7 linked regions of the Homo sapiens genome follow. The protein of the gene in region 3 interacts with the protein of the main gene of each other region in a pairwise test. Each region holds a gene or a part of one and is shown on either strand. Other genes may lie near its edges.

What was found.
Region 1: the proteins of RUSF1 (region 3) and GJA8 interact in binary tests that used the Homo sapiens proteins (3 or more experiments, as listed by UniProt).
Region 2: the proteins of RUSF1 (region 3) and GPR42 interact in binary tests that used the Homo sapiens proteins (3 or more experiments, as listed by UniProt).
Region 4: the proteins of RUSF1 (region 3) and HTT interact in binary tests that used the Homo sapiens proteins (3 or more experiments, as listed by UniProt).
Region 5: the proteins of RUSF1 (region 3) and ITGAM interact in binary tests that used the Homo sapiens proteins (3 or more experiments, as listed by UniProt).
Region 6: the proteins of RUSF1 (region 3) and FAM209A interact in binary tests that used the Homo sapiens proteins (3 or more experiments, as listed by UniProt).
Region 7: the proteins of RUSF1 (region 3) and FKBP7 interact in binary tests that used the Homo sapiens proteins (3 or more experiments, as listed by UniProt).

The regions. Positions count from the first base shown.
Region 1 is NC_000001.11:147,900,640-147,905,783, forward strand, and holds the start of GJA8 (gap junction alpha-8 protein), read left to right. Parts: upstream 1-2,155; 5' UTR 2,156-2,222; intron 2,223-5,144.
Region 2 is NC_000019.10:35,369,619-35,374,312, forward strand, and holds GPR42 (G-protein coupled receptor 42), read left to right. Parts: upstream 1-1,449; 5' UTR 1,450-1,500; intron 1,501-1,730; 5' UTR 1,731-1,741; coding exon 1,742-2,782; 3' UTR 2,783-3,344; downstream 3,345-4,694. UniProt on the Homo sapiens protein: G protein-coupled receptor that is activated by short chain fatty acids (SCFAs), such as propionate. Hence may play a role in the regulation of whole-body energy homeostasis and/or in intestinal immunity.
Region 3 is NC_000016.10:31,501,526-31,505,875, forward strand, and holds part of RUSF1 (RUS family member 1), read right to left. Parts: intron 1-4,350.
Region 4 is NC_000004.12:3,238,681-3,242,418, reverse strand, and holds part of HTT (huntingtin), read right to left. Parts: intron 3,602-3,738; coding exon 3,441-3,601; intron 2,574-3,440; coding exon 2,360-2,573; 3' UTR 1-2,359.
Region 5 is NC_000016.10:31,318,788-31,323,137, reverse strand, and holds part of ITGAM (integrin alpha-M isoform 2 precursor), read right to left. Parts: intron 1,898-4,350; coding exon 1,767-1,897; coding exon of another isoform or gene 1,763-1,766; intron 1,675-1,762; coding exon 1,511-1,674; intron 1-1,510.
Region 6 is NC_000020.11:56,523,261-56,527,502, reverse strand, and holds FAM209A (protein FAM209A precursor), read right to left. Parts: upstream 2,760-4,242; 5' UTR 2,695-2,759; coding exon 2,446-2,694; intron 1,721-2,445; exon of another isoform or gene 1,700-1,720; coding exon 1,433-1,699; 3' UTR 1,351-1,432; downstream 1-1,350. UniProt on the Homo sapiens protein: May play a role in sperm acrosome biogenesis.
Region 7 is NC_000002.12:178,471,498-178,475,847, reverse strand, and holds part of FKBP7 (peptidyl-prolyl cis-trans isomerase FKBP7 isoform a precursor), read left to right. Parts: intron 1-1,880; exon of another isoform or gene 1,881-1,993; intron 1,994-2,705; exon of another isoform or gene 2,706-2,819; intron 2,820-4,323; exon of another isoform or gene 4,324-4,350. UniProt on the Homo sapiens protein: PPIases accelerate the folding of proteins during protein synthesis.

The sequences.
Region 1 (5,144 bases), on a different chromosome or scaffold from region 3:
TTCATAGGACTATATCAGGGAGAGCGCAAGCTTCAGGAATCAGCATGTACTGAATATTCCCAAAGAAAGAATGATTGGATTTTTTCCCCTCATCCTCTGACTTCTTACCTTATTGATATTGCAGGGATCAGCCTTGACCATCTATTTTTAACTGAAGGATTTGCTATAGGGCATTGTCCCAGTCAGTGTGGGCCCTCAAACTTGGGAGTTCAAAAGAAATCAGACATCTAAAGTAAACAAGGTTTTGGGCTAGTGACCATTTTATTTAAAATGGAATTGGGGACTCACACAACATTGGTACCATCCTCCTTCAAACTGCCCCCATCAAAATGCAATATGTCCATGACACCAGAAAGGACAGGAAGGGGGGGTGGGGTGGTGAAGCCAGTGCTTAGATTTTTTTTGTCTAGTTTGCCCTCCAAGTTGTCTTCAATTTAGTAATCATACATTGCAGATTTCATAAAACAATCTAAGTTTCAACTATTTTTGCTCCATTGTTTTCACGAATAAACTTGTAGGATAAAATGCCCCTATTTTTGGTTTGGAAATGTAGTCAAAATAACCATTTTTTATACTACCAATAGTCAGTCCCAGATGATGGGACGGGAGTGGGCCTCAGAGAGCATATGTCCATGCCCTCCAAGCATCATTCCTCATTAAGCCACATTAGAATTTAATCCAAGAGCCTCCTGGTGAGCAAAACCATCATATCCCCATTTAACAGATGAAGGCACTAAAGTCTAAAAATGTTAGCTGACATTGATTGAACTTCCGCTACTCAAAAGTATATGTAATTATAAGTGAAACGTGGTGAGAAAGGCTATTACTTTGACAAATGGCACCAGAATTCTTTGGAGTGTTAAGGCTCCTTTCAAAGAGGGAGACCACCCTGCTGAAGGTTTGTTTGTGTTTCTTTTTTATTGTTTTGATCTTTTTAGAAAGCTCTTTCCTTTTATGTTTAGTTGACACATAATAATTGTACGTATTTGTGATACACAGTGATATTTCAATACATGTATACAATGTGTAATGATCAAATCAGGATAATTAGCATATTCAGCATCTCAAACATTTATCATTTCTTTCTGTTGGGAACAATCAAAATCCTCTCCTCTAGCTTTTTGAGACTATACAATAAAATAGTTAACGGCCAGGCATGGTCGCTCATGCTTGTAATCCCAGCATTTGGGGAGGCCAAGGCGGGCAGATCGCCTGAGGTCAGGAGTCTGAGGCCAGCCTGGCCAACATGGTGAAACCCCGTCTCTACTAAAAATAGAAAAAAAAAAATTAGCTGGGCGTGGTTGTGGGTGTCTGTTATCCCAGCTACTCAGGAGGCTGAGGCAGGAGAATAACTTGAACCTGAGAGGCAGAGGTTGCAGTGAGCTAAGATCGTGACATTGCACTCCAGCCTGGGTGGCAGAGCGAGACTCTGTCTCACACACACACAAAAATATAAAAATTAAAATAATTAATTAATTAATGTTAACCATATTCACCCTACAGCACTGCAGACCACCAGAACCCATTCCCCCTATCTAGCTGTGCTTTTGTATCTATTAGCAACATGCTCCCCATCCTTCCTTCCGCCACTACACTTCCCAGCCTCTAATATCCACAATTCTGCTGAAGGCTTTGAGAGACAAGAGCAAACCACCAATAAAAAATGAAATATGGTCCTTTGGAAAGGACCAACCACTCTTGGTGTGACTCAGGGCAGAGGGATTCACACAACTGACCACTTACTGTCCCTACATCATTAAGATTCTCCCAGCTGATGATAAGGCCTTGGGAAAATGCCCCTAGGCTCATGCGCTCTGGAGAGACGCCAAAGGTTTACTGATGTACAGGCCCAGTCTGCTGCTAAAAGAAACTTTGGGAGGCACAGAAGCCCCAGCTAAGCTTTCACACATCAGCTTTCCCCATCCTCCTCCCCTCAGTGCCCAACACAGCTCTCCCATTCTCTCACTCCCATTGTTTCCCAAACATCCCTCCCTTCATAAAAGCTGTCTGGCTGGGAGCTTAAAATATTGCTGGACAGTAAAACCTACCCATCAGGGCCAATCCAGTCATATCTGCTCAGTCGTGCAGCACAGTAGGGGCGGGGTAGAGAAGTGGGAGGTGGGCTTTTAGGCAGCAAAGGAAAGAGACGAAAGTTGCCATTTTGCTGCTGAGCGCCAAGAGAGAAAGAGCACATATTTCTCCGTGGGACACTCCTTGTATTGGCAAGTTTTCCTTGGGTGATATTAGTTTGTAACCTTCCCCCCAATTGTTCTTTCTCAGCCTAATCTAAGGGCCATATATAGGCTTCTCCAAAAGGAAAAAGGTTGCCAATAAGATTCAGTCTTGGGCTGGGATGGCTAGACTTACACTCCAACTCTGAAAACCCTCTTCAAGTTGACCTAAGAACTGGCAGAGGTTTGGAAGGGAGAGGAATGCTGGAATAATCAGCAGGATGGGGAAACAGAGATGTCCAAACTCAAACTACAATTTGACTTCTTAAGCTCTTTTCATGTCTACAGGAATCCACAGGGACCTAAACCAAGTATTTGATATTTATGAAAAAGTTTTGTGCCCTTTTCACTCAAATTCTACAATAGAAATAATAGTCATAATTACTGAATGCTGTGGGGGTAGCGGAGGCTTCGTGCTCAGCATTTTCCATGTTGGAGCATTTAATGGAGCACAGGAAGGGATCTGGCTAAGGACCATAAAATTCCTCCTAGGAGCAGGTTCTGTTGTCTATCTATGAGAACTGCTGGCTAGTGGCTGTTCTAGAAACTAGAAAAGAGGCACTTTCCACCTGGTTACCAACCAGAGTGGTAAGTGGCCATTGAACGCTTTGGATAACTTATTAATGGATGTATATGTGTTATTCTGCCTCTTCAAAACCAGAGGAGGGCTATGCTGTAATGGGCTTAGATCTAGAAGACCAGGGCTCACAGCCTAGCTCTGCCCTCACTAGCTAAGCCCCCATCTTGGAGACTCATTTCACCTCCCAGCCTGTCTTTTTGTCTGGTAATGGGGATTGATAATGCCAAGTTCACTGGTTCTCAGACATCCATCTGGGGATCTGTCAGTTCTAGCTCAAGATGAAGGTTTCCACAACCTGTGACCAAAATGTGACAATGATAAAGTTAACAATGTAGTAAATGTTTCACCAAGTTAAGTGTGTTCAATTTAAAGGCTTGTCTTTTATTCTGAAGTTATGTCCTCTCCAGTTTTGTGGTGTTAAAATCCCCTTTTATGAAATGATGATGAAAATAGACTGTAGTTGTAGTTAGTAATTTAATAACTCTTTTTTTTTTTTTTTGAGACAGAGTCTCGCTGTGTTGCCCAGGCTGGAGTGCAGTGGTGTGATCTCAGCTCACTGCAGCCTCCACCTCCTGGGCTCAAGCAATTCTCCTGCCCCAGCCTCCCAAGTAGCTGGGATTACAGGTGCCCCACCACCGTGCCCAGCTAATTTTTGTATTTTTAGTAGAGATAGGGTTTCACCCTGTTGGCCAGGCTGATCTTGAACTCCTGACCTCAAGTGATCCTCCCACCTCGGCCTCCCATAGTGCTGGGATTACAGGCATGAGTCACCACGCCCAGCCAATAACTCTTATTTTTATGTCCTTGTTTGGCAAAATAAGGAGTTGGTATCCTTATGTTGGTCACACTAGTTTGTTATTATTATACTAGTCTGTGAAATCTAAGTCTGAGAACCACTGGCCTAGTTCACAGCTTGTTATGAGGACTGAAATAAGATACGTGAAAATGTATCACTTAGATCAAGGATACCCAAACATAAGGTGTTATTTTAATCATTACCTCTAGCCATCATTTTCTGGTGGGATGTTCCTGGCCATATATGGACACCCTGGGGTTGGAGGCTTGAACTCTATCCATTTATTTTCCATCTGTAATAGGTCTGTTCACTAAATTTTCACAAGCAAAATAAAACAGAGAATTATCTCTGAGAAAGAGAAGAGAAATAGTCTTCCTTTGGTTCAGATTTCTCCCTGCTCCCACAGAACGCTTTGCTTCTCTGATCTGACTTCCTTTAAATTTTCACTGTTAGAAGTCAGGAAACCAATACATTTCCCTTCGCAGCTCTAAAGTGTCTCTCCTTAACAGCACAGTAGGCCTGTTTCAACATCATGGGGTTGGAAAGATTGTGTCCTAAATTACAGTTTCTCTCCTTCAGTTATCACAAGAAACTGTAACTAGACATTTAAAAAAAAATACAATCTTAGCATGGCGGCTTAGAGTATAGAAAGACATGGGCTTGTTTGGCTTTGGTTTCAAAATTACTAATGAGTGGTCAGGAACGACTTCTTGTGTCATGAACATGTATCATGACACTCTTGTCAAGAATTGTTGGCCTTCCAGTTTATATATTTGATCTCATACAAAATAAGCAGTTTTGTGTCTCAGAGCAGCTGGTTGGGGATCAATTTACTATCCTTTTTGTTATTTACCATTTTTTACAAGTTCTTAATTTTTCTGCTGTTAGCTGTAGCAAGAGGACTGAAGTTCCTTGGTCTCTAGTATTCATATTACAGGAATTTGGGGATTGAGAATTTCAGATTTCACAAGGATTACTATTAGAACCATGCACTGCTGTCTATGGAGCTCCCACTCTGTGAAGGGCTTTGTTCTGTGTTGTGATGGTTCACAAAAGATGAGGCCAAAATGGTTCCTGCCCTCCAAAACCTTTTGATACTAAAGGGGGGAAAACAAGATTGGTTAACATACAGGACTGAGAGCATGTGCTCATCACACACATTCATGTGGGTATGTGAGTGAAATACACTGTCAAAAATGAACTGATATATCAATGAGGGTAAGTATTAGCAAGATAGTTAAGATTCAGTAAGATATTAGTAAGATAGTAAGATATTAGCTAAATCTTATAGAAGTACAGTTATTCAAATTGCTGTTTTAACATAAATTTTAGAATGAACTATTTGATAAGAAATGAACTTTTTCCTGGCTCTGCCACCAGTGAGCTTTATGCTTGGGCTGCTTACCTGATTGTGATGTTTCCCACCTATTTTCCAAAAGGCAATGGGAATGGCTACCACTCTTACCAGGGCAATTACTAGACTTAACTATAGTCTGAAGAGTTAAAAATAGATACATGTGGCTGGGATTGAGTTGCT
Region 2 (4,694 bases), on a different chromosome or scaffold from region 3:
ATAAAAGGCATCCAAATAGAAAGGGGAAGTCAAATTATCTCTGTTCACTGATGATATGATTCTATACCTAGAAAACCCTACAGATTCCTCCAAAATACTCCTAGACCTGATAAATGACTGGCAGTTTCAGGATGCAAAATCAGTGTATAAAAATCAGTAGCATTACTATATACCAACAATTGTCAAGCTGTGAGCCAAATAAAGAACAGAATCCCAATTACAATAGCCACACACAAAAATAAAATACCTAGGAATACATCTAACCAAGGAAGTGAAAGTGAAAGATCTCTACAAGGAGAACTAAAAAACACAAATAAATGAAAAACATTCCATGTTCATGGATTAGAAGAATCAATATCATTAAAATGTCCATACTGCTCAAAGCAATCTACAGATTCCACCCAATTCCTACCAAATTATCAATGTCATTTTTCATAAAATGGAATCATTCTACCAAAAAGACACCTGCATGTGTATGTTTGTCACAGCACTATTCACAATGGCAAAGTGATGGAATCAACTTAGGTGCCCATCAATGGTGGACTAGATAAAGAAAAAATGGTACATACACATCACGAAATACTATGCAGCTATAAAAAAGAATGAAATCATGTCCTTTGCTGCAACATAAATGCAGCTGGAGGCCTAAGTGAATGATCCTAAGTGAATTAACACAGAAACAGAAAATCAAATGCTGTATGTTCTCACTTTTAAGTGGGAGGTAAACAATGGGTACACGCAAACATTAAAGATGGAAACCATAGACAGTGGGGACTCCAAAGTGGGGGAGGGAGGGCGGAGGACAAGGGTGGGAAAACTGCCTATTGGGTACTATGTTCACAATTTTGGTAATGGGTTCAATAGAAGCCCAAACCTCAGTATTATGCAATATACCCATGTAACAAACCTGCACATGTGCTCCCGAATCTAAAATAAATATTTTCAAAAAGCAATTGACCTATATTATTAACATTTTAATCTACCTGTATATATGTTTTAATCTGCATGTGTTCATGCTTTGAAATATGGTACAGGTACTATGACAATCCCTGTTCTGTAGGGGAGGAAGAAGAGACACATCTCTTCCCCCACATCACAAAGTCAGGAAGGAACAGACCTCACGGAGTCCAGTCTGTCACTGGCTCATGCTTTGTGCCCTTAAAAGGCAAACTGGATAAGTGCCATTCTAGAGAATCAGACAAAATTCAAGTGGAAGAGAGGGGAGGGGAAGAAGACGTCAGCTGGGGCCTGTTTGGAGCATCCCAGCTGAGGCTGCGCAAGGAGGGAGGCACGCAGTTGTGGAATTTGTTCCCCTTTTTGCATACTGACCAGCCCTGGCAACGGAGCTCAAGGCATCTTTGTGCCACTGCTCAACAGTGAGTGATGTCATGGGCACGGCCAGGTCTTTATCAGTTCTGCCGGATAAATAGCCAACTGCACTAGGTCTGGAGAGACAGCAAGGTGCTGTGCGGCAGAGCATTTGGGGTCTCAAAGAAGCAGGTGAGCCTGGGCCCGAGGGGCTGGGTGGAGGAGCACCTTGGTGCTTCTCTGCTGGGGAAGGGACAGGGGACAGGGCATGCTCAGGAAGACAGGCAGGCTGACCCCGCCTGGAAGGCACCCAGAGACAAGAGGGGTGGGCGTAGTGACCTCGTGCCCTTTTAGGGGAGATGCTGCTGGCCAGAGGCCGTTAGGGCCCCCACTACCAACTCCATGTTACTCTCTCTCACCAGTGGCCACCACCATGGATACAGGCCCCGACCAGTCCTACTTCTCCGGCAATCACTGGTTCGTCTTCTCGGTGTACCTTCTCACTTTCCTGGTGGGGCTCCCCCTCAACCTGCTGGCCCTGGTGGTCTTCGTGGGCAAGCTGCGGTGCCGCCCGGTGGCCGTGGACGTGCTCCTGCTCAACCTGACCGCCTCGGACCTGCTCCTGCTGCTGTTCCTGCCTTTCCGCATGGTGGAGGCAGCCAATGGCATGCACTGGCCCCTGCCCTTCATCCTCTGCCCACTCTCTGGATTCATCTTCTTCACCACCATCTATCTCACCGCCCTCTTCCTGGCAGCTGTGAGCATTGAACGCTTCCTGAGTGTGGCCCACCCACTGTGGTACAAGACCCGGCCGAGGCTGGGGCAGGCAGGTCTGGTGAGTGTGGCCTGCTGGCTGTTGGCCTCTGCTCACTGCAGCGTGGTCTACGTCATAGAATTCTCAGGGGACATCTCCCACAGCCAGGGCACCAATGGGACCTGCTACCTGGAGTTCTGGAAGGACCAGCTAGCCATCCTCCTGCCCGTGCGGCTGGAGATGGCTGTGGTCCTCTTTGTGGTCCCGCTGATCATCACCAGCTACTGCTACAGCCGCCTGGTGTGGATCCTCGGCAGAGGGGGCAGCCACCGCCGGCAGAGGAGGGTGGCGGGGCTGGTGGCGGCCACGCTGCTCAACTTCCTTGTCTGCTTTGGGCCCTACAACGTGTCCCATGTCGTGGGCTATATCTGCGGTGAAAGCCCGGTGTGGAGGATCTACGTGACGCTTCTCAGCACCCTGAACTCCTGTGTCGACCCCTTTGTCTACTACTTCTCCTCCTCCGGGTTCCAAGCCGACTTTCATGAGCTGCTGAGGAGGTTGTGTGGGCTCTGGGGCCAGTGGCAGCAGGAGAGCAGCATGGAGCTGAAGGAGCAGAAGGGAGGGGAGGAGCAGAGAGCGGACCGACCAGCTGAAAGAAAGACCAGTGAACACTCACAGGGCTGTGGAACTGGTGGCCAGGTGGCCTGTGCTGAAAACTAGGTCCTCCGGGGGAGGAGGGTGTAGCTGGCGTGTCATCCTCAGGGCGCTTCCTCGCTCACGCCAGGAGGGACTTGGAGTGGCGAGCTGGGGCCCGATGGGGCTTGGGGGCAGAGTAGACATCTAGCCTCCCTAAGGGTATGCGCGCTAAAGCCCAGCTCTCGATCTCACCTCCATCCCCATCCACCCACACACTATGGATTGGGCTCTGGGAAGGGGTCAGGGTGAGAGGCTGCTCTGGAGAACAATGAGGTCCTCATAGCAGCAGGCAGCTCCTGTGTTTTCTTGAGGGTGGCAGAGGAGCTAAGAGCAGTGCCCAGGTCTGAGGGGGCTGCCCAGTGAGTGGCAGGGGCAGGAGAGGGGAGAACCCCATCCTCAGAGCTGCTCCCAGCCAGCGAGTCAGGAGCGGGGGAGACAGGGCTCCAGGGATGAGGCCGCATTCTGCTCCCACAGTGCCTTTTCCAGAAAGTTCCCATTGCTCAATAAATGTGGATCATCAGAGACATTTATGAACAATGACAGAAGAAAAATTACCCAAATAAATGTGGAAGCAAGCAAAAGAGAACAGTGTTTCCTTCTTCTCCTGTTTTGTTCTGGTGGTGTGCTTGGGCCGGGTGGGACTGGTGGATGGAAGGAGAAAACACCAGACTCTGGAGGAAAAGGGCCAAACACCAGGATGCCTGGATGCTGGGAGAGGATCTGGCTTGCAGGGATGAAAATAACAGCTGCCCTGTCTAAAGGACTTGGCCTGACACATCATCTCCTTCTATCTCTCAATAGCCCTGTGAGAGGTACCAGCATTATCCCCAGTTTCAGATGAAGGAGTGGCCCAGAGAGGTGACATCTCCTACCCGAGATCCCATAGCTGGTGGGCGATTGAAGTGGGACCAGAAGCTGGTGTCAGTTGACTCTGACACCCATGCCCCTAAGCCACTCTGCTGTTCTCCATCTGTGTGTCACCTGTGGTCACCTGGCCCAGTCAGATGAGGCTGTCTGAGCAGGACAAATGCAAACAGGCTGTGATAAGGAACAGAAGTAAATGCAAAGCACAGTGAGTATCTGTGTGAGTGCATCCTCTCCCCAGTAAAGAAGACTTCTTGAAAAGTATAGATTACGATACTTGGAGTCAATGATTGGGCAGGTGACTCACAGTGGGCACCCGATGCTCCTCGATCTTAGCTAATGCAGGATCTCTTCAACTTTTTACATCCTTGTCCCCTTCAGAAGCCTCTTTGGATATACATCTTTCCTACACAGCACATTCCTCTGCCTGCTTATGCAATTTCAGTGCAACCAACACACTGTCGGTTTATGTGTTGTGGCCCTTTACAAAGACAGAAACTGGCTGGGCGCAGTGGCTCATGCCTATAATCCCAGCACTTTGGGATGCCGAGGCAAGAGAATCACTTGAGGTCAGGAGTTTGAGACCAGCCTGGCCAACATGGTGAAACTTTGTCTCTACTAAAAGTACAAATATTAGCCGCATATGGCAGCATGCACCTGTAAACCCAGCTTCTTGGGAGGCTGAGGCAGGACAATCACTTGAGGCCAGGAGGCAGAGGTTGCAGTGAGCCGAGATTACACCACTGCACTCCAGCCTGGGTGACAGAGTGAGACTCTGTCTCAAAAAACAGAAGGAAGGAAGGAAGGAAGGAAGGAAGGAAGGAAGGAAGGAAGGAAGGAAGGAAGGAAGGAAGGAAAAGAAAGAAGGAAGGAAAGAGAGAAAGAAAGAAAGAGAGAAAGAAGGAAAGAAAGAGAGAGAGAGAAAGAAAGAAAGAAGGAAGGAAAGAAAGAAAGAGAGAAAGAAAGAGAGAAAGAAGGAAAGAGAGAGAGAGAGAAAGAAAGAAGGAAGGAAAGAAAGAAAGAAGGAAAGAGAGAGAAAGAAAGAAAGAGAGAAAGAAGGAAAGAAAGAGAG
Region 3 (4,350 bases):
CAATGCTGCAGTGAGCTATGATCATGTCACTGCACTCCAGCCTGGATGACAGAGCAAGACCCAGTCTCAGGAAAAAAAAAAAAAAAAAGATTTGAACTGCAGCTGGGGTTGCACGGCAGAGGGACAGGCCTCCTTAGGCTGGGCAGAGTAAGAGAAGTCTCTGGAATCAGTGGGACCTTCGTTTGCACAACAAATGCTTTCTGGCTACCTAACTCTCTCTGCCAGGTACTTCATGACCACAGTGACCAAGATGATCCCAGGGTCAAAATCCAGCCAAAGAGCAGATAACAATCAGTATAGAAAACACTGATTTAGACCAGGAATCACTAAACTGTTTCTACTCCCTGGTTTTGGAAATAAAGTATTACTGGAATGCAGCCATGCCTATTTGTTTACAGATTGTCTATAGCTGTTTTTGCAAGACAATGACAGAACTGAGTTGCTGCAACTAAGATTATAAAGCCTGCAAAGCATTAAGATCTGGCCCTTTACAGAAAAAGTTTGTCAATCTGGACCATCCATTATACAGAGAGCAGCACCCATTAAGCCTGGCAGAAATATTTTAGAACGAGACACCTGGGAGGGACTCATACAGTGGACATGGGAGAGGACAGATACCATGGGGAGAGGATTTGGACTTGTCTGAGCTTGAGGGCACTGACCCTGAGGTGGGGATGTAGGAGAAAGGACACTACGTTATGGGAATGAGGGCTGGGAGCTTCCCACGAAACATAAATGCAATGACACGGGCCAGCCCTCCCATTCTCCACTGAGAGCAGATGCATTCTCCCCTTTCCAGAGCCTTCTTGGGCACTGAGTCATGCTTGCCCACCCTGGACTTGAGGGAAATCAGTAAGCGCTCCAGTGCACACCTGAAATACCTGTGCTTTTTCATCTTCACAATGATCCTGAGACTTTGGGAGGGATCATTCCCCTTCACTAAGGCTCCCATTAAATCGGTGAATAAAATTGAGGTATTTTACAAGAAAATATGGATTTCCAGCTTCTCTGGAAGAACCTGAAGATATGGCCACACTGGGGCTGCCCTCTCTCACGGCCAGCATCAGCTGGGGCTACCTCACTGAAGGAAAGCATGGGTCCAAGCTACTGCCATCTGGCCTGCTTTGTTTCTCCATTTCTGTCCTGACTCTGGAAGTAACACCCAACAAGGTGGATTTACAGGCCTCCCATCCCTCACTTTAACCTCTTCCCTTCAAGTACATTATATTCTCGGCAAAATCATCATTGTGCCAGCCACCACACCTGGCTAACTTTTGTATTTTTAGTAGAGATGGGGTTTCACCATGTTGGCCAGGCCAGTATCAAACTCCTGACCTCAGGTGATCCACCCGCCTCGGCCTTCCGAAGTGTTGGGATTATAGGCGTGAGCCACTGTGCCCAGCTCAGACTCTATTTTTCTTCCCTTTAGCTACACACTTGTATCCACTCAGGTGTATGTCCTCCTTGGGCCACCTGACAGAAAGGGAGCCTATTCTACCTTTCCATGGATCATCAGAGGCATTTACAGGACAAATGATATATATACTCCCTAGCATCTGAGTCACTACTGTCCACTAGAATAGAAAACTCCCACTTGCTTTTTTTTCCTCTTCATTTACAACTGGCCAAGCTGTAAGATCTAGAAACATCTGAGTCCTAATAAGGAATCAGCTGACCACAAATTGTACTTGGCTCCACTTGACATTCTTAGCTGGCAAAAGAGTGTGGTAGTTAAGAGTAGAACACAGGAATAAGTCTGCCTAGGTCAAAATCATGGCCCTAAGTGACCTTGGACAAGTTACTTAAACACACTTTTGTCTCTGTTTTTCCATCTAAAAAATGAATAATGGCAGCTAACTAATATGGCTGCTGCAGAGATCAAGACACATATTACATGTAACCATACAAAATGTGTGGCTTAAGGTAGGTTGCCAAAATATTAGCAACAAGTTTTATTACTATTGCTACTCATGACAACTGGCATCACGTTCCACTGAGACAGGTAACTGAAAATGATCACATCAAAAAATCCCAAGTAAGTTTCTCAGATGAAGCTCTGCACAGAAATTTCCCATGTTTGATGAAAATGAGCTTGTAAAATCCTAATTGAGAGCTTCTTTTACTATCAATAACAAGCCTTTATTTATTTATTTTTTTAGATGGAGTTTCACTCGTTGCCCAGGCTGGAGTGCAATGGCGCAATCTCGGCTCACCACAACCTCCGCCTACTAGGTTCAAGTGATTCTCCTACCTCAGCCTCCTGTGTAGCTGGGATTACAGGTGCACACAACCATGCCTGGCTAATTTTGTATTATTAGTAGAGAGGGGGTTTCTCCATGTTGGTCAGGCTGGTCTCGAACTCCTGACCTCAGGTTATCCGCCTGCCTCAGCCTCCCAAAGTGCTGGGATCATAGGCGTGAGCCACCGCACCTGGCCAATAACAAGCCTTTTAAGTAGATTTTTCATCCTTTTTCTTTGAGACAGGGTCTCAGTCTGTCATCCAGGCTGGACTACAGGTGCCTGCCACCACGCCTGGCCAATTTTTGAGTTTTTTGTTAGAGACGGGGTTAAACCATATTGGCCAGGGTGGTGTCCAACTCCTGACCCCAAGTGATCCACCTGCCTCTGCCTCCCAATGTGCTGGGATTATAGGCGTGAGCCACGGCACCTGGCCTTTCTTTTTTTTTTTCATATCTTAAAGTGATCTTGATTTTTCTTAATAACTTGTCTGAGCTAAAGGTTTAGCGTTCCTTTTTTGTTTCAGACAGGATACTGCTCTGCTGCCCAGGCTGGAGTGCAGTGGCACTATCTCGGTTCAGTGCAACCTCCACTTCCTGGGTTCAAGTGATTTTCCTGCCGCTGCTTCCTGAGTAGCTGGGATTCCAGGCACGTGCCACCATGCCTGGCTAATCTTTGTATTTTTAGTACAGATGGCGTTTTACCATGTTGGCTAGGCTGGTCTTGAGCATCTGACCTCAACTGATCTGCCGACCTTGGCCCCCCATCCCAAAGTGCTGGGATTACAGGGATGAGCCACCATGCCCGGCCAAGGTTAAGCATTCCTAATCCAAAAACCTAAAATCTGAAATGCTCCAAAACCTGCAGCTTTTGGGAGTGCAGACACGATGCCACCAGTAGAAACAGCCGATGGTGAAATAGCACAAACTGTTCTTGTAGGGAAAAGAAAGAGATCAGACTGTTACTGTGTCTATGTAGAAGAGGAGGACATAAGAAACTCCATTTTGATCTGTACTAAGAAAATTGTTTTGCCTTGAGATGCTGTTAATCTGTAACTTTAGCGCCAACCCTATGCTCACAGAAATGTGCTGTATGGAATCAAGGTTTAAGAGATCTAGGGCGGTGCAGGATGTGTCTTGTTAACAATATGTTTACAGGCAGTATGCTTCATAAAAGTCATTGCCATTCTCCATTCTCGATTAACCAGGGGCACAATGCACTGTGGAAAGCCACAGGGACCTCTGCCCAAGAAAGCCTGGATACTGTCCAAGGCTTCCCCCTACTGAGACAGCCTGAGATGTGGCCTCGTGGGAAGGAAAAGACCTGACTGTTCCCCAGCCCGACACCTGTAAAGGGTCTGTGCTGAGGAGGATTAGGAGAGATATGCTGGCGGCAATGCTGCTCTGCTACTCTGCTACACTGAGATGTCTGGGTGGAGAGAAGCATAAGTCTGGCCTACGTGCACATCCGGGCACAGTACCTTCCCTTGAACTTATTTGTGACAGATTCCTTTGCTCGCATGTTTTCCTGCTGACCTTCTCCCCACTATCACCCTGTTCTCCTGCCGCATTCCCCTTGCCGAGATAGTGAAAATAGTAATCAATACTGAGGGAATTCAGAGACCAGTGCTGGTGCTGGTCCTCCGCATGCTGAGTGCCGGTCCCCTGGGCCCACTGTTCTTTCTCTATACTCTGTCTCTGTGTCTTATTTCTTTTCTCAGTCTCTCGTCCCACCTGATGAGAAATACCCACAGTGTGGAAGGGCTGGCCTCCTTCAGTTCTGAATCAAGGCAATCATGGTAACAGTGACAATGAAGAGGATACTGTTACCACTACAGAAAAAGTGCCTATAGACAGCACGGTGAGGATGTGGGAGGGGATTACTGTGGCACTAGAGCAGCATACATTCATAACGGAACAAGAAATCAGGCAGTTTATAGAATCCAAGAGAGACTTCTAAGATAGAAACCACAGTTAATGAGGCAAATGACTCTGGAGGAAACATTTTAAAAAGCCATCCAGCAGAACACTTCCTCATCCCTAGAGGACCCGCTTCCTGTCCTTCAACTGCTTCTAATGTTTCTTCTCACCTTAAAAAAATAAAATATGGTGT
Region 4 (3,738 bases), on a different chromosome or scaffold from region 3:
GATGTGTCTATATGCACATGCATGGATACTTTATGTATATGCGTGGGTGAAGTCATTTTTACTAATGAGCTCATATTCATCTCCGGAGCACACAGGCAGGTCTTTGGGGGTGGGGGACACCTACTGCCAGAGCGGGGTGTTCTGAGCCCCTTGCTAAGGACTGGTTTAGATCACGTCGTAAACAAGAGGAAGACAAACTCTATGTTGAGCCCAGCGATATGCATTCCAAGGGAATGGCTCTGTTTTACATTCACAGTGTTATTTCTTACAAATGTAAACATCTAGCCAGGAACAACATCTGGCCTGTGATACTGCTGTCTCAGAGCTGCTGACATAACCTGCGGGGGAGGCGGGAGGCGGGTGGGGAGCAGCCAACAGTTCTGAGAACTTTCCCCTCGTTCCCAAACCTTCTAGCGGGCTTTCCAGGAAAAAGCTAGGATGAGAAACAGGAGCCCCCAACCAATACGGAATGGTGATTTTCTTACGTGTTATAATTCAGTAGCTTCCCTTAAGGGCCTCCTCAAACATCGGACCCCTTTCTACCGCTCCTGCTGCCCCGCCACGAGGACGAGGTGGTCCTGGCTGGGGGAGGCCTCTGTTGGGAGCTGGTGGGAAAAGCCTCATACAGGCCTGGCAGAGGCTGCTCAGAGGAGGGGCTCCCTTTCAGCTCCCCCTCACGTATGTGGGCAGCATACAAGTCCACATCTCAGCTGCTCCCCAGCTGCCACATAGGAGAGGGACAGGTGGAAGCTTGGGGGTCTCAAGGCAGCACCTGCACAGAGTTCCAACATTTCCTCCACTTACCACATTCAATACCCAAAACATCGACGGGCATGACCAAACCAAGCCACATGACAGTCGCCAACCTTGCCTGGCTCGCCTCTAGGGCTGAGGAAGCAGAGCCCCTGCCTCGTCTCACAGCCAGTCGGCAAGCAGAGCTCCCAAATCCAGCTCCTACATCAGCAGCAGCCCGGCCATCCAGAATCCACTTCCATTTTAATGACTTGGCTCCTCTGGGCCTGCAAACAGGAGGCTGGTCCAGGGACCTGGCCTGGGGATAGGAGTGGCGGCTCTGACAGGGCCGTGGGGCAGTCTCCGATGAGCACAGATCTGCACTCTCCTGACTAAAAGGGGTCACCGTGCAAGATGTCAGCTGGAACGGGGGCAGAAGGGATGCTGGGCTCTGTCACTAACAGTGCCAAGACACCAAGCTTTGCTGTTGACCGAGAGAGGCTCAGACAAAACACAGCTCAGTGACACTCTTAGGGCATGCATCCATGGAGCAGCAGGTCCCAACACCTGCCAGCCAGCTCCTAGGCAGACGCCACCCCAGGGCTAGCAAGGAACAGGAGTGGGAGGCCCATGTCTCTGGACACAGTGGAGGCTGCTCACAGCCAGGGAGGGCTGGCCTTCTCAGCTGAGTGACAGGGAGGCTGCTGTCCCTGACTGGTGGGTGGAGAACGACAGTCGTCTGTGCCCGAGGAGGAGGGGCTGCAGGTGAGCGCACCCCTAGGATAATGGGGGCCTGTCCTCAGTCCTGCTGTGGCCACCTGCCCACTAACGCCTCTCTACATCCCAGTCACCTTGTGAATGCATAAACAGGAACATGTACAACGGAAATGTCAGCGGGTGCTCAGGAGGGCTATGCCAGTGGCTACAGGAGAGGGAGCGTGGCCGGGGGCCCTGTCCACCACCCCGGACGCTGTCGCATGCAGCACAGGCCTTGCGATTCACATACTTTACACGGGCATAGAAAGAGTTACGTTAAAATTAATCTCTTTACTGATATAATTAAATTTTAAATCCTGAGAAGAAAAGAGAGAAGGGAGAATGGTGCCGGGTGTCTAGCACCCCCAGCCACTGGCCCAGCACAGGCCATGGCATCTGTGCATCCAGACACGGGGCGTGGCATGCACACCCCACCAGGGAGACCCAGGCCAGTGTTCCCAAAGCCTGCTCACGGCACCTTCTACTGCAGGACAGCAGAGGGGCCAACAGCCAGCCTGCAGGAGGGAGGACTTCTGGCCCAGATGCAAGAGCAGCTGCAACCTGGCAACAACCAGCAGGTGACTATCAGGAGAAAGGACCTGGTCACCCACATGGGGTGCAGCACAGCTGCTCCTGCTTTCTGGAAGGCCTCAGGCTCAGCCCCACCAGGACTGCAGACACTCCCTGCCTGGCCACTGCCACAAAGAGCACTTCTGCCACATGGCAGAGACACGCACGTTGCCTGGCCGCCCGCGGCATGTGCGGAAGCCCATAGGGACCAAGCTGGCTCGGTGGAGGCAGGGCACAAGGGCGCAGACTTCCAAAGGCTCCGGCCCCAGCTGCCGCCTCACAGTCTCTCCCACCATGGCGCTCAGCAGGTGGTGACCTTGTGGACATTTCGTAAACAAGTCAGCAGCCGGTGATATGGGCTTCCTGGGGCTGCAACCACCTCAAGCACAGACTGGAAGGCCCTGCGGTCGAGCTCCTCCTCTATCTGGTGTCTGTAGAAGTCTGTGGCGACCAGGCAGAAAAGGTTCACGTCCACCTGCTCCAGCTTGCCCATCCTGCTGATGACATGTGGGAGGCTGGTGCAGGAGTTAAGGAAAAAGGCCGGCAAATGAGGGGAATGCTGCCTCCCTGTCCTCACCTGGGAGTTCCTCTCCTGAAACAGTCTACAAAGGGGTCCAGGGAGCCTGGAGAGCGAGCAGAGCCCCGGAAGGGCCACCTGGATGCCTCCAGCTGCATCAGCGCCTCCACCTCCATTCCTGCAACCCTTGGCTGGCTGGATGCCCTGCAGGCAGGGCACCCACTCGGCAGCACTCACCTGGCCTGGCTCCTGTGCAGCGCTGGTGGCCGGTGCTTCCGCTGGCCTCCACTAGCCCTGCTCCAATGCAGTGAGGGCAGAGCCGTGCCAGGCACGCCGGGCAAGGCTGTGCTGTCAGCACCAGGACAACTGTGCTGCTTGGAGGCTCTTGTGGTCTGTCTTGGGGAAGGGCTGTGGAAAGGGAAACTCCTGGCAGCCAGCATCTGGGGGTGGGAACTGGATCTTTACTTAAGCCTTTCCCCGAGAGGGCGATCGAGGCACAATGACCAAAGCTAATGAGAAGCAGTGTCAGGAGAAGCCCAGCCACACAGAGCCCGCGAGTGGGCGGGACGTCTGCAGAGACCACCGCCCACCCTCGCTCCCCTCACCCAGGCCCTCCACAGAAAGGCCCCTCAGCTGCGACCCTCCTGCCATACACCGGCCCCTCTGAGAGGCCCTGGTCAGCAAATGTCTGGACGTGCTCCTTTCTGTACCCCTGTCAGCATTTTACTTCCCTGGGGCTGAGGGCCTGTCACCCTGGCATCTGTGGGGTTTTTGCAAAGGTTAGGTTTCAAAACCTTATCATGAAACATGAGCCTCGGTGTTGACAAGGGAAACGGGGCCAGCACCAGGGACCCAGAGAGGATACATCGCCGCGACCCACGGGCTGGTGGACGCGCTGACAAAGAAGCAGGAGAGGCTCCACGTGGCCATGGCGACCGGGGCCCTCTGCGTGAAGTTGGAGAGGGACAGCATGACCCAGTCCCGGACCATGGACGACTGCCCGGTGCTGTGCAGAGTCTGAAACACCTGCAAGGAGCAAGCAGGTGCCTGAGTGTCAGGGCTGGGGGGACGGGAAGCACCTGCTGCGCCTGGGTGGCGGGGGTGGGGTGGGGGCCAGAGGCATTGCTGCTTTAAAGCGGAGGAGCTGGGCTCTGCTGGCGAAT
Region 5 (4,350 bases), 180 kb from region 3:
TTCTTTAACTACTGCATCTTTCCTATTCCATCCTATTCCATCTTTCCTATTCTGTCTTTCCTATTCCATCTTTCCTATTTTCTTTCTCTCTCTCTCTCTCTCCTCCCCCACCACCACTTTCTGTAATTCCAATTACATGTTTGTTAGATCTTTCACCATATCCCACACATCTCTTATGGTGTTTTTCTGTATTTTTCTTTCTTTTTATCGCATATTTATCCAGATACTTTCAAATGACTGTCTTCTTGTTCACTAATTCTCTGTTCTGCTTCTAATCTGCTATAAATCTATTTACTGAATTCTTCATTTCAGTCAGTGCGATTTTTGGTTCTAGAGTTTCCATTTGACTCTATTTTATGAATTCCAGGTTTTTGCTGAAGTTCTCATCCTTTCCCTTTTTTCTTGAAGATATTAATTATAGTTACCTTTTAAAAATTCCTATCCAATCACTCTAATTTCTGAATCACCTGTGGGTCTATTTCTATTGTATATTGTTTCTCTTGGTTGCTAGTCAGTTGTCTCAATGGAAAGACCAAGGTATTTACCAAGGCCTCTCAAATCTCTGTCTCCCCAGCACTGAGGAGCTGCTGAATTCTCTGATCAGCTCTTTGGCTTTTCAGTTGCTGTTTTCTACTGGGTGTCTTGGAGTACTGACCTAGGCATTCGTGTCTTAAGAGTCAGCCAAAGAGTAGAGGGGGACTTCTATGTAGGTTTAAGGGTACCTCTTCTTCAATTCCCTACTCTCTAACATTTTGCTCTTAATTTCTAGCCATGCTGGCTGCTCTCATATCTGGAATGCTATCTCCTCAGCACAGGAAAACTGTTCCTAGAAAGGTAATCATTTTTTAGGGATGGGTCTTGCTATGTTGCCCAGGCTGGCCTCAACCTCCTGGGCTCAAGTGATCCTCCCCTCCCACCTCAGCCTCTCAAGTAGCTGAGACTACAAGAACATGCCATCATGCCTAGCTAATAATTTTACTTTTAAAGAGGGTACAATTCTTTCTAGTACTGTCATTACTAGAGACAGTTATTCCTAGTGCTGTCACTACTAGAGACAGTTATTCTTAGTATTGTCATTACTATTCTCCCACCCCAAACACAGTTCTACTCTTTGAGAATAGGAACAAGGGAAGAAGTCACTGGTGATAAAATGCGTATGTGAGTGCTTTGTAAATCTCTGTTTAGCTTCATCAATTCAATCTCCCCAAATAGGTTTTCTCTCCGTTTATTAAAAAACAAAAACATAGTTTGTTCACAGGCATGGGGCCTTCAGTTCTCTGGAGAACTGAGTGAGTAAGGAAGTGCCACATGCTCACCTCTTTAGGGAGGTCCACTGGACTTCCCTACCCAGCAGGACAATAGCCTGCTCACTCAGGTAAGGCTTGGAGAAGGTTGTCAGAGCCTGTGAGAACTCAGTTCAGGACAGCCAGAAGGCTGGGCAGAGTGGATTGCAGCACCCATTCATGTCCTCGGTCGTTTAACCTCTTGAGACTCATCCACCAAGCCTCACCTTCTCTTAGCCGATCCCGTGTGCTCTTCTGGACATGGAGGCAGACTCTGACCTCTCCGGCTTCCTTGCCTTTCACCACCTGATCATTACACTCAAATACATTCCTTGCCACTTCCCTGGGATTGAACTCCATGATTGCCTTGACTCTCAGTACTGGCTGGGACCTAAAGGGACACCAGAAAACCATCAGGGACCTTCAAACAGGAAACATTCCTTCAAGGGAGAATGTCCGGTTGACTCCAAAAGGCATTCTCACCTGAGCAGCAGCACGTGCCCCTGGGCTCCTACAGTCAGGTCTACCAGTCCATCCATTGTGAGGTCCTGGCCCCCACTCAGTGACTGACCAAAATACTGGAGCCTGGGAGAGAGCTTGGAGCCTGCTATCCGCTGAGGGTAAAAAAGAGGTGTGGAGAGAGAAAGGGGTAGGAAAGACAGGAGATGTATAACTCAGTCATCCAGCATGGCCCAGACAGAGGTTCTCTAAGCTCTACTCAAGTCTCATCTCTTGCAACTAACCAAGGAACTAGGACAGCTTAGAACTTATCAAGGAATTATTCACCTTTAGACCACAACCTCAAGAGGATACCTACAATTTCTTTTTTAAAAAAACTTTTAAAATAAAAACGGGGGTCTCACTTTGTGGCCCAGGCTGGTCTTGAACTCCTGGGCTCAAGCGATTCTGCCCTGTCAGCCTCTCAAGTGCTAGGATTATAGGTGTGAGCCGCCACGCCCAACCCCAATTTCTATTAATTACCTGCATTTCCCTGCATACAGGGAAAAGTAAAAGTATATTATTTGGCTCAGCTGAATTTCATTTACGTAGTCAGAATAATGCAAACACTGAATGTTGATCTAAACAAAATGATCACATAAACATGAGGCGTGAATGGGGGGTAAAAGAGTGCTACTATGTGGCAAAAGGAAAACTGAAAAAGAGATCAATCTCCACCTTCCATGGTGGGAAGTCAGTGGTAAAACAAAAATCAAAAAGTAGCAAAATTATTATTATGTAATTGGAACAAATAGAGAATTGAAAGAGCTGAAAGTGGTTCCCTCAAGAGCAAGGGAAATGAAGCCAAAACCATCGTGTATGTGGAAATTGTTGTTTTTTAATAGTGAGCTTTTTGGAACTATTTTGACTCTTTAAAGTATGTGCAAGAGTAATATTGAAAAAAATGACAGCCAAATAATAAATTTTAAAGAAATTTTAAAAGTGATTTTGTCATGTCCTTAATGCAAGTGAATTGGACACTTTTAATTATGGTATAAAAGTTATAAGACAAAGATATTAAAAATAACTATAGCTAAAATTATGTTACTGGATACACAATATAAATAACTGTAAATTGTGAATCAATAACGTAAAACGTGTAGTGGGGAATAAAAGTATAGAGTGCATGTGATTTAAGTTCAGTTGTTATCAGCTTAAAATAGACCATGATAATTATGAGATGTTTTGTGGAAACCACAAAGAAAATACCTTTAGAAGTTATATACACAAAAAAAGGGTCAGACGCGGTGGCTCACGTGGCTTACACCTGTAATCCCAGCACTTTGGGAGGCTGAGGTGGGCGGATCACGAGGTCAGGAGATCAAGACCATCCTGGCTAACGTGGTGAAACCCCATCTCTATTAAAAATACAAAAAATTAGCCAGGAGAGGTGGTGGGCACCTGTAGTCCCAGCTACTCGGGAGGCTGAGGCAGAAGAATGGCCTGAACCCGGGAGGCGGAGCTTGCAGTGAGCCGAGATCGCACCACTGCACTCCAGCCTGGGTGACAGAATGAGATTCCGTCTCAAAAAAAAAAAAGTACAAAAAGAGAACAAAATGAAAGCATATTAATACAAAAATTAACAACAATAAAACACAAAGGAAGACAGCAAGAGAAGAAAAGAGGGACAAAAGACCTACATGACTAACAGAAAACAATTAACAAAATGGCAGTAGTAAATCCTTCTCTATCAATAATTACTTTAAATGTAAACAGAAGCAAACTCTCAAAACAGAGTGGCAGAATTAATAAAAATACAAAATCCAATTATATGCTATCTACAAGATACCCACTTTGTATTTACTGACACATAGGCTAAAAGTAAAGGAGTAGAAAATGCTATTCCATTAAAATGGTAACCAAAAGAGAGCAGGATGACATGCTAATATCAGACAAAATAGACTTTAAGTCAAAAAACAAATAATGATATTATATAATGATGAAATGGCCATTTCACCAGGAGTTACAACAATTAATTATATACACACCCATCAGACATCTGAATATATAAAGCTAATAATGACAGAACTGAAGGGAGAAATAGACAGCAATTCAATAGTAAGAAACTTCAAAATCCTACTTTCAATAGCAAATAGAACAACTAGACAAAAAAAAAACCCAAGGGAGAATGGACCAAATGGACTTAACAGACATATACAAAATACACAAGCCAACTACTGCAGAATATACATTCTTCTCAAGTGCACATGGACCATTCCCCAGGACAGACCACATGTTAGGTCACAAAACAAGTCTTAACAAATTTGAAATGATTTAAATTATATCAAGAATCTTTTCCAACCACAATGGAATGAAACTAAAAACAATACCAGAAGAAAAACTGGAAAAAAACATACATATGTAAAAATTAAACAATACACCATTGAACAACTAATGGATAAAAAAATAAATTAGAAAATAACATGAGATAAATGAAAACAAAAACACAATATACCAAACTTAATGGGAGGCAGCAAAAGCAGTACTAAAGGAAAGTTCGGGATAAACACCTAATTTTAAAACAAAAAGACAAATTTCAATTACAAAACCTAACTTTACACCTCAAGAA
Region 6 (4,242 bases), on a different chromosome or scaffold from region 3:
CATTTTGCAGATGAATTAAATGAAGGATTTTAAGATAAGTCATGATCCTGGCTGCAGGAGGGCAGGTCACCATTCTCCAAGAAAGGGAACCTGGCCCCTTGGGGAAGTGGCTGATTCCAGGATGAAGGCAGGCAATGAACCAGATGAGCATGGAGCATCTTGGGTTGCCAGAAAGTAAGGAATTGCTCAAAAGAGGAAGGGGCTTGCTCACAGAACACAAGTGCCAACCCGAAGCAGCTCCTAACGCCAAAGGTGGGAAAGGTGGAGCCAGAAAATAATCCAAAAAAAAAAACACACCTGTAAGTCCATACAGAAACCCATCCATCAATCATCGGCGAAGGAACAGCTCTTCTTACAGCAGAATTCCAATCAATAAACACTGTAGGAGAGAGGAAAATAGAAATCACCATTAGGCAAGCACCTAAGTATGTACAGAGATGCCATCAGCCACAGTAACATGTAAAATATCCACATTTTGAATAAGTAGGATAAAGAACATGTCAATTAATCTGGGAGCCCCTGGTTAGCACACTTGTATCCAAAACTCCAATGGCATAGGATGAATGAATTTTTCTCCGTTTTCTTGTTAATTTAAAATAATAGAGATGGGGTCTCACTATGTAGCCCAGGGTGGTTTCAAACTCCTAGGCTCAATCAGTCCTCCTGCCTCGGCCTCCCAATGGGCTAAGATTACAGGTGTGAGCCACCATGCCGGGCCTCTCCTTTTTGTTTTTTTCTTTTGAGATGGAGTCTCGCTCTGTCACCCAGGCTGGAGTGCAGCGGTGCGATCTCAATGCAACCTCTGCCTCCCGGGTTTGAGCGATTCTCCTGCCTCATCCCCCTTTTTTTTTTTTTAAATCCAATTATTGACAAATGTAACTGCTAGTGTGGTAGAAGGAAAAGTCAATATACACGGAACCTTTGACAGGGAATGAGTGAAAGGACTCTTGTGGTGAGAGAATCAGATAACTCTAGAATACACCCCTCCTAATTGAATCATTTTACCATTTTAAAACTATCATTAATGCTGTCTTTTGTAATAAATCAAAGATAAAAAGCAGTTCTGCATCTTGCACAAATAGATGCTATAGAGAGCAAGAGTTTGTATGGAAGTGACGTCAGCATCTTATCCCAGATTTCCCTAGCTCCATCGTCCACCCGCGGCCATTGAACAGAAGCACGAGCTCATCACGTACTATTATGTAGCTTTCGGTGTTCTTCTCACCACCCACAGCTCTAGATGACGTGAGAGAGGCAAAAACAAAACCATCACTGCTATGGCTACTGGTCTCCCATTCACTTTTTCTTCTAGTGAAAAAAAGAAAAGAAGCAAGCTCTCAAACATGGAAGTTCTTTTCTTCAGAATAGTTTTATTAGTTTGCATACAGTTTGTCAACACTCAACTTTTTTCTCTCCTGACACACAAATCCATTCAGCTAGAGCTTTCTTCTCCCCATATTTCACAGATCGTGACATGGTATGGATCTGCAGGCATCTCTGACTTTCGAAGCCTGAGGTTACTGCCACTACCTGTTGCCATGGCACGTTTAAGATTCCGCACTTTGGACACAAATTTCATAAGCTCCACCTCGAGTTCCATTAAGGTATTGAATGCACAGTCTTTGTTGGGGGAAGCATTTCTTTTTTTCTTTAATGGAGAGTGAAGTTGGCCGCCTCGAAGGCCAGGAGGACTCTGCTCCTGTCAGGAAAGATACTCAAGGTCAGTAATATTGTGAACTTTGTTGGTTTTGACACAGTTCGTGTTACAACAGCAGACTTGAGTAGTTGCAAGAAGACCATACTGCCCACAAAGCTGAAGATATTCGCACCCTCCCTGGCCCTTTACGGGAAGGGTTTGCCGATCCCTGCTCTCATCAGTTTGGGCACAGGATTATGAAGTGCTGGGTCTTTCTAGGGGAGAACGCACTTTCTCTCCCCTTCCTTTTCTACCTGAAAGAGTTGTTTGTGGTCACTTTGAGGACCAGCTCAAACTACCTTACATCTTTATCTCTTCAGCACAAGTCTCATATTTTGTTGGGATAATGATATCATTTCCATTTAGCTCAGGATTTTGTAGTAAGTCAAACACTAGCAAGAATTTAAAAAACAGGGGCTAGTGAATCTGGCCCTGTGAATAATTTTGACTTTCTGAAACACACCATAAGTTCTTGAATCTATCCTACATTTGAAAAAATCCATCTAACCAGAAAATCTGTGAGCCAGTAAGCAGAGGTCACTTTCCACTCTTTGTCCCAGTATCTGTGGATCTGGGGACAATTGTCTTCACTAAGGATACATCAGGAAGTGAATTTGCCAGCTTTGCCCAGGACCATGAGGTCGGTTCATTATACCCAACGGTGCCGTCTAGACTCACTAGAACATCCGTTTCCCTGAGACTCCTGAGATTGAATCAATATGGTGTAAAAAAAATGGAGCCATCCTTACCTTATTCTTCTCACTGTCTCTTTGACACTGCAGTATCACAAACGGCACAACAACAAAAAGAAGCCAGAGCCATTTGCTCCCAAGCCAGCCTTGGGTGTGCTCTGGTAGATTCTGCCGAATCCGAAAGTGCTCTCCGTATTGCACCTTCCCCTGGGGTTCGCTAGTTTTCTGTCTCAGAGAAGAGAACATAAAGGCATAGCTGCAGGTGAGGCACAGAAGCAGGACCAGGGACGATTTCAGCGTCCACATGGTGAGCAGAGATGGGGAAGGGAGTTGCTCATGACGGGTTTGCTTGCCCTCGCAACTGGGAGACTGGGCACCTGGTGCCAGGCCCTTGGTGATGTCACAGAGGCCCTGAGCTGAGGCCACTCTGGCCATTGTGATGATTTCAGGACAGAGGTTACAGGTCACAGGGGTTGCCCGGGAGGAGGACTCAAAGGGAGATGGGGGCATTTCCAGCAGGCAGTCAGAGAGAGAGGATGGGCACGACGGGGTGCCAATTCCCTGCCAGGGGACTCTTTCCAACCCTGGAGCTTTGCTGGGAGAGGCCATCATGTTTTTGTTTTTCATTTGTTTGATCCAGACATTGTGATGAGCAGAGGGAGATGCCATGTGCCCCGTGGAGCTGAGTTAAACGGGAGAGAAAGATATTAAACCACAGGCTACCTACAAATTTGGAGCCACCTATGTGGCTCAAACTAAACAAACAAAAAATTTGTTTTTGTTTTTTTTTGGGGACGGAATTTTGCTCTTGTTGCCCAGACTGGAGTGCAATGATCTTAGCTCACCGCAACCTCCGCCTCCCAGTTCAAGCCATTCTCCTGCCTCAGCCTCCTGAGTAGCTGCGATTACAGGCATCCACCATCACGCTTGGCTAATTTTGTATTTTTAGTAGAGACAGGGTATCTCCATGTTGGTCAGGCTGGTCTCTAACTTCCGACCTTAGGTGATCCACCTGCCTCGGCCTCCTAAAGTGTTGGGATTACGGGCATGAGCCACTGCGCCCGGCCCACCTATGTGTTTTGTTTGGCCTACATTGTTTTTAAAAATTGTCAGTACTTAAATATTGGGGGGCATTTCACTTTAAAACTCCACATTCTGGCTTCCTTTGAAAATATGGGAGGTCCAGAAACAATGAGTGCACACCCTCATGGAACCAGTCTCTCTGCTGCAGCCAAGTGAAACCGTCCTTTCGGTGGCCATATTCCCTCCACAGTCCCCACCACTCACTATTACCTCACACCATCATTGATCGTAGCAGTGTGTGCCCACCCTGGGTTAAGAGTATACTTTGGGCTGGGTGTGGTGGCTCACACCTGTAGTCCCAGCACTTTGGGAGGCCAAGGCAGGTGGGTCACCTGAGGTCAGGAGCTGGAGAATAGCCTGGCCAACATGGTGAAACCCCATGTCTACTAAACAAAAATTAGCCCGGCATGGTGGCATAGGCCTGTAGGCCCAGCTAGTTGGGAAGCTGAGGCAGGAGAATCACTTGGACCTGGGAGGCAGAGGTTGCAGTGAGCTGAGATCGCACCACTGCACTCTAGCCTGGGCAACAGAGTGAGACTCCATCTCAGGAAGAAAAAAAAAAAGAGAGAGAGTATACTTTGATTAAAATTGTGATAAGAACAGGAAGCTTTAGAGACTAGCATAAGGGGACTGCTCTAAACTAGGTTATGCAGGAAGCAGGAAGAGTGTCCAGAAAAAGATGGTTGAGTAGAGCAGGGGAGATGATTAAGAGTTGGTGGGTAAAATGGGAAGGGGCTGAATCCCCCAAGTAAAAAGGAACAGCTAGCTTGA
Region 7 (4,350 bases), on a different chromosome or scaffold from region 3:
TAGGTAAAGCAAATAAGCGGGAAAAATGTTTGTAACATGTATGAAGACTTGCTAACCAATAATGAAAATGACATATCCCTAGAAATGGGCCAAATTCATAAATAAGCACCCACTAACAAAAAACTACAAATGGCCTTTAAGTCTATGAGAATACTTAATTTTATTCATAAAGAGAAATTAAAAATGAGACATCATATTTCACTCATCAGATTAGCAAACACAAAACAACTTGGCAAAAGCATGGAAAAACCAGCATTATTGCTGGGAATGGAAATCATTCAACTTCTCTATCAACTGTTATCAAAAGTGAAAATGCAGGCCCGGGTGTGGTGGCTCATGCCTGTAATTCCAGCACTTTGGGAGGCTGAAGTGGGCAGATCACTTCAGGTCAGGAGTTCGAGACCAGTCTGGCCAATATGGTGAAACCCCGTCTCCACTAAAAATACAAAAATTAGCTGGGTGTGGTAGAGTGTGCCTGTAATCCCAGCTACTTGGGAGGCTGAGGCAGGAGAATCGCTCGAACCTGGGAGGCAGAGGTTGCAGTGAGCCAAGATTGCGCCACTGCACTCCAGCCTGGGCAACAGAGCGAGACTCCATCTCAAAAAAAAAAGTGAAAATGCACGTGCCTTCTTATCCAATAGTTCCATTTCCAGGAATGTGCACAAAGGTATATGTAAAAGAACATTCACTGCAGGCATTTTTGGGTGGGAGGGTGGCAAAAGGTTGGAAACCACCTGCCTATCCATCAATAGGAAATTAGTTAAATAAATTATAGTATATCTATACAATGAATTACTGTGTAACCAGTAAAAAGAATGAAGTAGAGCTATACTTATTAATATGTTAAAAATAAAGTGGAGGCCAGGCATGGTGGCTTCATGCCTATAATCCCAGCACTTTGAGAGGCTAAGGTGGGAGGATCACTTGAGCCCAGGAGTCTGAAAGCAGCCTGGGCAATGTAGGGAGACACAATCTCTACAGAAAATTAAAAAGTTAGCCAGGCGTGGCGGTATCCGCCTGTGGTCCCAACTACTCAGGGGGCTGAGATGGGAGGATCCCTGGAGCCTGGGAGGTCGAGGCTGCGGTGAGCTGTGATTGTGCCACTGCACTCCAATCTGGGCAACACAGCAAGACCCTGGCTCAAAAAAAAAAGTGGACAAGACTATATTCCACTTTTGGGATATATATTGAGCATCAGTGCCAGGCTTTGTTCTAGGCACTGGGCATAAAGCAGTGACCAAAGTAGACACTACTCCCAATCCTCTATGAGCTTTCATTTCAGAGGAGGAGTTTCACATATGCATGTATCTACACAGAATACATCTGGAAGAATATGCAGTCATCTGATGACATTAAGTGTTCCTGGGAAGGAGGCCTCAGGGTCAAGGATGAGAAGATTTCTTTTCACTCTAACATTTTGTACCATTTGAAAGTTTTATAAGGCATGTATTAATTTTTCCAAAATTAAAATTTTAAATTACAAAAATTGCATGTAGCAGAACAGAGAAGAAAATTTTTAAAGCAGGCAGGAGGATGGGCAGCCTGATAGGCTGTACCTTGCATCCTTAGTTAGGTTCTTGCTCCGTGTTGCTGCTTGAAGGCTATACAGAAAGAATCTTTGCCTCCTTACCCTATTTAGAGCCACTGCTGACTCCACCGGTTTGAAATAGTAAAGATTAATTTTCCACAATGAGATATTGGCATTGCTCCCAAATATTTCATGGAAGTGGCATGCCTTCTTTGAGGCAGTTGTCTTAGTCATTAAGAGTTCTTTCCAGCAAAATCGGGGCATCAGTGCCCCACACTGGATTGGCGGGTGGTGGGGGGGTGTCAGTGCTTTGAGTCAGACCCAGTCAGGCTTAAAACTCCTAAAGAGACAATTTCCAGATAACTTCAGCTTTATTTTTAATGCTTTTTGCCAATAATTTGATCCCATCAGAACAGCTCCCATGGTACCATAATTCATATATCCTGTTTTTATTTGTATAGGAACCTAGGAGAAAGAGAAGGAAAATTGAAAATAAATTAAGTCAAATGCAATACTTGTGCTAAAAATGTTGTCAAAAGTTGAGGCCACTTCTAGGCAAAATGTTGGAGGCAGAGTTTGCCTTTCAGTCTCTTTCTCATTTTCAAAGTTTTCCTTTCTGTCTTGCGTTGTGTCTTCAGATGCCTCCACATTCTGCCTACCACTAGAGCACCCACTCTCCTATCTGCCTAGAGCACACACATCTGTCATCATCAGGTGCTCATCCAGGGTTCACCGCCATCAGGCAAAGGACCACTTAGCTTATCTTTTTCATAAACTAATTTATGCTTAGATATGAATGACTACCCAGGCTGCCTAAGCTCTTAATAAATCAGAAACTTGCTGCAGAGATATAGAAGTTTGATGTGAAACAAGTTCATATTCAATTGGAGGTATCTCTAACAAACATTAAAGTGATTAATCTCACTAGTAATACCACCAGCACCCTCATTTTACAGAGTAAGAAACTGAGGCCCAAAAAAAGTGTTAATTGGACCATAGTTAATACTGACCTTGCCTGCGTTACATTAGGCATTGTAATCCAATACCTTGGATTACATTATTTTAAAAGTTGCAGTGTAGACCTTAAGTAACTGTTTAACAAACAACCTCTTGATTAAATAAGCATTTAAAAGTAAGTTGTTATTAAGACCTAACATTAGCTATAACTTTATTTTAGGTAGTACTTGAAGAAGTCTTTCTTCTGCAAAATATCCTTGTCTCATGTCACAGAACAACCCTGCATGTCTTGAAATGCATGTGACTTGTTAGTGCTTAAATAACAATACATGCGGTATGTATATATTCTTTACCTTAATTCCTACTTCTTTGATCTGCTTCTCTAAATATAAGTAATTCCGTAGCAAATGCATATTTTCCTCATTTTTATACTTTAGTTTTTTTTAAAAAAAAAAAAAAAACAAGAAAAAGAGGTAATTGGCAATATATCCTTTTTTTTTTTTTTTTTTTTGAGATGGAGTCTTGCTCTGTCACCCAGATTGGAGCGCAGTGGTGTGATTGATCTTGGCTCACTGCAGCCTCTGCCTCCCGGGTTCAAGCTATTCTCCTGCCTCAGCCTCCGAGGAGCTGGGATTACAGGCACACGCCACCATGCCTGGCTAATTTTTGTATTTTTAGTAGAGATGGGGTTTCGCCATGTTGGCCAGGCTGGTCTCGAACTCCTGGCCAGCCAGGCTGATCTCGCCCTCCTGGCCAGGCGCAGTGGTATAAGCCAAATAAGAATTGCTTGAACCTGGGAGGCAGAGGTTACAGTGAGCCGAGATCGCGCCATTGCACTCTAGCCTGGGTGACAGAGGAAGATTCTTGTCTAAAAAAAAAAAGTGGTATAAGCCACTGCGCCCGGCCAATATTTTCTATGTTTATAGCAAAATTGTTCAAAAACTGCATATGTACCTACAATATTTTTTCTTAAGAAATTCAAGTTTTGGGCTGGGCACAGTGGCGTATAGCTGTAATCCTAGCACTTTGGGAGGCCGAGGTGGGTGGCTCACCTGAGGCTAGGAGTTCAAGACCAGCCTGGCCAACATAGTGAAACCCCGTATCTACTAAAAATACAAAAAATAGCTGGGTGTGGTGGCTTGTGCCTGTAATCCCAGCTACTTGGGAGGCTGAAACACAAGAATCACTTGAACTCGGGAGGTGGAGGTTGCAGTGAGCCAAGATCGCGACACTGCACTACAGCCTGGGCAACAGAACAGATTCTGTCTCAAAAAAAAAAAAAAACGAAAAGAAAAGAAATTTGAATTTGTGTTTTGAGTTTGCCTTGAATTATTGTCAGGAGACAATAATTCTGTCATAAGGAGATAACTGGAAAAAATAGGAATGGGTTTTATAAAACAATCATTGACTCAATCTCTAGCTCTTCTACTCTAAAGTCAGGTAATATGTGGTGCATTAGGTTAGGACTTTTATGTTAGTCATATGATGCATGGGTAGATCTTTCTATGTTTTCTCTTTGAAAACTACTAATCTGCTACTCCTTTTGGCTATAACTCACAAACTCTTTTCTCTTCAGACTATATAAAGACTTTAGCTAGAATGCTTCACTTTTTTATTAAAGAAATTGCTGTTTCCTTCCAAGGACAAACATTTTAAAAATAAATGATATGGGTCATTCATTCGGCAAATATTGGACTGCCTGTAGTAGATTAGGCACTGTGTAGGACACTGGCAATATACTGATGACACAAGCTACCCGCTGCCCCTTAGCAAGTCATTTTTGCAAGTCACTTTTATGACATATTTATCTGAAATAGCCCATCACTTATTAAAATCACCTGTGACATCATGGCCTGGCACGGTGA